Regions from separate parts of the Homo sapiens genome. Here region 1 is linked to region 2. A link means that fine-mapping ties the variant in region 2 to the expression of a gene that starts in the linked region. Tissue or cell type: whole blood. Region 2 holds a variant in brackets; the other region holds the start of a gene. All regions are shown on one strand. Distances are between the middles of the regions.

Region 1 (2,690 bases), 81 kb after region 2:
CTCTTCAGGCAAGGCCATTAAGGTAACTTAATCCCTCATGAATTGCTCAGTGGAAGAAATGCTGATTCCTAATTCGAAAATTAATTCCTTAGCTGTTTCTGTATTAAGAGTCATGAGGAAAACCACAGCTACAATTTAGATTCAGAATGTTGTCTTGAAGGCTAGCAAGACAAATAGGAGCTTAGAGAACGGAAGATGATGCTGGGGGAGGGGGCGCAGAGAGAGTGCGAGAAAGATGCTGGTCAGTTCCGAGATGATGCAGGAATGACATGGCACCTGGACAACATAAGTCCACGTCCACCCCCTGCCAAGTCTGTGCCTCGGGCTCTCTCACAATTGCCTGAAGCTGTGAATAGGTGCACACGCAAACACACCACCTTTTATTCTTCGACTCTCCGGGAGGAGAATGGTGGGGAAGCGTCTCTGGATAAAGCTTCACCACAACAAACGACGTCTTTCTCCTCGCACCCCGCCTCCCCAGCTAGAGGCAGGCAACAGTAGACAGCTGAGAGGAACGAGAACCCTGGCGAGAAGGAAAGCATCTCCACCTAAGGGAGGGGGCTCGGGGGATAAAGCCCCACAGCCTCACAGGGAGCCTCACGGAGGGCGACAGGAAAAGGAGGGGGGTGTTGAGCTGGGAAAACAGGAGAGGGGCACTGGGAAGCTTTCGGCGCGCTACGCAGGGAGGCTGCCCGGGGCTGGCGCGCACCGAGGGGGTGGGGGTCGAGCCCGGGGCGGACCCCTCCCCCGACTCCCCGACTGGAGGACAGGGAGGAAATGGCTTTGTATCGCACGATGAAAGGCAGGCAGGAGGGCCACCAGGCGGGGGGTGGCAGGGGACGGAGGATGCCCAGAGCTGGAGGACCCCGCCCGCCCCACGGACACCGCCACTCTGCCCCCCATTCCACTCTGCCCCCCATTCCACCGCAGCGCCTGGTCCATCCACCCTCTGGCTCCCGCTGCCCGTCCACGTTCCAACGGCCCGCAGCGGGGTCGCCCCACTGCCGCATCCTTACTCCGCGCCCTGCGCGCTTACCTGCCCACGAAGTTCTCGAGCACCGAGCTCTTGCCGGCGCTCTGGCCGCCCACCACGGCGATCTGCGGCAGCTCCAGCAGGCAGCTCTGTCCCAGCGCCGAAAACGCGTCCTGCAGACGGTTCACCAGCGGGATCAGCTCCTCCATCTCCCGGTTCCCCATCTTGCCCGAGGGGCCGGCGACCAGCTGGTCCCTGCTCGCCTCTACGACCTGACAGGGAGTAGGGGCCGCGCTGCCCTGGCTGCTGCTGCTGCGCCGGGCTCAGCCAGCCAGGTCCTGGCGCAGACGTCGGAGCCCGCCGCCAGCCCGCCGCTTGGCTCTGACAGCTAACGACCCGCAGCGCGCCTGCGCGGGCGGGCAGGGGCGTGGCCTATCTCCGCGACGCCCCGCCCCCGCCCCGCGGCTGCCCCGCCCCGGGCTTCCCATCGGACCACCAGGCCAGGCGCGCACGCACTGCAGCCCAGCTGCGGCCAGATGCCACGGCCTCTGCGTTCTGTGGCCAAGGCTCAGAGGCCAAGTTACAGCGCCGGGTCAGGAAATGGCATGAAATCAGCAGCAGCGGCAGCGTTGTTCTCTTTCAGCGGCTACCAAGCCAAAGCCCAGTGGAAAGCACTATCGCCGCTAACACCACCACACGATCACCAGCAACAGCAGCACCGCCGCCGCCACCACCGGGGCACCGCTGCCAGACTACACTTCCCGAAAGGAAATCTCCTCTGTCACGCCCTTCTCCAGAATCCGCGATGACTCCTCCCAGGGTGGCAGGCCTGTTGGAGTCTAAATTCTTCAATGTGACATCCATCTAAGGCCCTGAGTGGTCTGACCTTACTTAATTCTTCATCTGTAATGACTCGTCCTCCCCAGCCCCGCATAAGCACAGGTAGAGTCTGTAGGGTTTACCGCCCCGATACACCCCTTTAATCACTCTGGCCTGTGAGACTCCTCATGCCATTTGCCCTCCCGGTCTATCTCCTTCTACCGGATCTATCCAGAACCAGGTACCCTGGACGCATTCTGTGAAATTTAGCACATTGAGAAGTGACTGTGTGTGGGGTCCTGTGCCTGATGATCGGGACACAAAGATAAATGGCCATGCTTCTCTTAGCCTCCACAGACGGTTCCTTTTTAGTCTGCTCCTCAAATACTGATGCTTCGCAGGGTTTCATATATGGGCATTTTCTTGTCTAATGTTTGTCCTCTGCCTGAGGACTTTCCCATAGCTTTAACTCTGAATCAAGGCTGGCGACTACAGAAATTTACATTGCTAGACCCTGTCTCTCTTCTGCAACTTAGACTGTACTCCAAGAGGAGCCCAGAATACTACCTGAGTGTCCTACAAGTACTACAGACTCAATTTATTCAAAACTGAAGTCATCTTTTGTAATCTCAGCATTTAATGTACAGTTCCTTCTAACTCTAAAAAGACATATTAAAATGTTCATAATGTCAAAAAACCTGAAAACAACCCAAATGTCTATCAACAGGTGAATGAATAAACAAACGTGGTATATATATATAGTGAAATAATCTCTGCCACAAAAAAGACTTTTGATATAGCAACAATCTCAGATACATTATGTAGAATGAAAAAGGCCAAAGACCATATTGGTTTGATTTCATGTATGTGAAGTTCTACAACCAGCAAAGCTATTCTA
Region 2 (2,690 bases):
GCAAAATCATGGAATCAACCTAAGCCCACCAACAGTTGACTGGATAAAGAAAACAGGGGACACATACACCATAGAATACTATGCAGCCATAAAAAAGAATGAAATCATGTCCTTCACAGCAACATGGACTGAGCTGGAGGCCATTATTCTAAGAGAAATAACAGAAATAGGAAATAAAATACCACACATTCACACTTACAAGTGTGAACTAAACAGTGGGTAAACATGGACATAAAGATGGGAAAAACAGATGCAAAGAACTCCAAAAGGGGGAAGAGTGGAAGAGGGGTGAAGGTTGAAATTCTACCTATTGGGGACTGCGTTTACTATTTGGGTGATAGTTTCACTAGAAACCCAAACCTCAGCATTACACATTATGCAATATAACAAACCTGTACCTATCCCCAAATCTAAAATGAAATTTAAAATTTAAAAATTAGTAATTTTAAAAAATGGATCAAAGACCTAAGTGGAAGATCAAAGCTATAAATCTCCTAGAAGAAAACATAGAATAAAGTTTTATAACCTTGGTTTTGGCAAAGGATTCTTAGATATATACAAAAATAACGAGAAATGAAAGAAAAAAGTAGATAAATTGGACTTCACCAAAATAAAAAATCTTGTGCTTCAAAGGACACTGCCAAGAAAATGAAAAGGGCCTATAAAATAGAAAAAAAAAATGCAAATCAAATATCTGATATGGGACTTGTATTTAATATATATCTGTTACAATTCAGTAATACAAAGGCAAATAACCAAATTTAAAACTAGGCAAAGGAAATGAATACACATTTATCTAAATAATATATACAAATGATCATTAAGCACATGAAAAGATGCTCAGTATCTTTAGTCATTAGGAAAACGCAAGTCAAAACCACAGTGAGATATCACTTCTTACCCACAAGGGTTAGCAAGGATATAGAAAAACTGTAACCCTCATACACTGCCGGTAGGAATGTAAAATGGGGCAGCTGCTTTGAAAACAGTCTGTCAGTTCCTTAAACAATTAAACAGAGAGTTACTACATGGCCCAGCAATTATACTCAGGTATATTTCTAAGAGAAATGAAAACACATGTCCACACAGAAACATGTACATGAATGTTTATAGCAACATCATTCATAATAACCAAAGGGTGGAAACAACTCAAATGCTCCTCAGTTAA[C/T]GAATGGACAAACAAAATGTGATCTATCCAGACAATGGAATATTATTAGGCCATAAAAAGAAATGAAGTTCTAATACATGCTACGACATGGATGAACCTTGAAAAGATTATGCCAAGCAAGAAAAGCCTATTACAAAAGACCACATATTAAATGATTCTATTCATATGACATGTCCAGAATAGGGAAATCCATAGAGACAGAACATAGGTTAGTAGTGCCTAGGCTGGAGTGGTGGGGAAAGGTGTTATGAAAAGAGGTGACAGCAGAAACATACAGGCTTTCTTTTGGGAGTGATCAAACAGTTCTAAAGCTGATTGTGGAGATGGTTGCACATATCTGTGAAAAGACTAAAATCTATTCAACTGTTAACTTCTATTGGTCAAGTTGTATGGTATGTAAACTGTATCTTTAACAAGCTATTAAAAATATTTGCAATTTATGATAGATGATTTTTATGAGGTGCTTCAGTCTTAAGCATTCAAAGAAATTGATAGGAAAACTAGTAAAATCCCCAAAAAGAAATGGGGAAAAAGAAAAATGGCCAATTCACGAGAGAAGAAATACAAATGGCAAATAAACATGAAAAAAAAATTCAACATCATCAGTTGCTGAAATAAAATGAAAATAAAAACAAAGCATCATTTACCTATCAAATTATCATGATGTAAGAGAGAGAAGGAAGCATAGCACAGTGTAAATATAGATACGCACATACACATCCATACAGATATTATATGGTTGTTGAATTTTATGAGTTAATCCCCAAGTGCATGTGCATGCACACATACGCACACACACACACACACACACACACACACACAAAGCATACCAAAGGAGTATTAGTGGTTGTGCTGTACTGTAAAATTATATAGATGGATTACAATGAGCAATAAAACATTTTTTTAAGTAGGTATTTTAAAAAAATCTATGAAAATATCCCCTTTAATGTAATCAAAGGAATGAAAAGAGCAATGAAGAAGGCAGCATTCTGGAGAGAAATGTGGGCAGCTGCCCACAGTGGGGCGATCACAAAAACGTTTCTATTTGTACAATCCCACACCTATGAAGGCAAAAGGGGCCACAGGATGTGCCCATCCATGCGGTAAACATCTTCATTCATTACCTGCTTTAGAAGTAACAAGCTGCAGCACAAGAGGTCGTCTTGTTACAATGCCCGACCCTCGAGGGAGAAAGTCCCTAAAAAAAGTAAGAAATACAGATTAAGGCATGAAGGAATTCTTATCACCTGTACATTCATAAACCAAGTTCCACAGCAATTCTCCTAATTCCCAACCTTTCAATGTATCGCTTATCCAAACAATGATAGGCCCATCTTAATAAAAGAAGCATTTTCAAATTTAAAAAAAAGGAGGAGGAGGGCCTTATATTGCACAGAAATCCATGTACATTATCATAATGACTTCACTGGAATATGTCATTCATTCATCTAGCTGAAACTGATAAAAGTTTGCCCTTAGTTTCTGTGTATTATCAATGAATTTTGATTTTCAGAGAATCAGC

What was found. PIP is the estimated chance that this variant, and not a neighbour inherited with it, causes the effect.
Region 1: it holds the start of DNM3, and the variant in region 2 is fine-mapped to the expression of DNM3 in whole blood (INTERVAL, PIP above 0.99).

The regions. Positions count from the first base shown.
Region 1 is chr1:171,840,164-171,842,853 of GRCh38, reverse strand. It overlaps DNM3 (dynamin 3), which reads right to left and starts at 1,356. Exons shown (of 21, transcript NM_015569.5): 1 at 1,037-1,356. The coding sequence starts at 1,197. RefSeq lists an enhancer at 932-1,111 and a silencer at 1,312-1,541.
Region 2 is chr1:171,921,424-171,924,113 of GRCh38, reverse strand. DNM3 (dynamin 3) reads right to left here. Exons shown (of 21, transcript NM_015569.5): 2 at 2,293-2,366. Among named protein-coding and RNA genes, the nearest start is that of DNM3-IT1, 59 kb to the right of the region's middle. The variant C/T (reference allele first, on the strand shown) is at 1,169.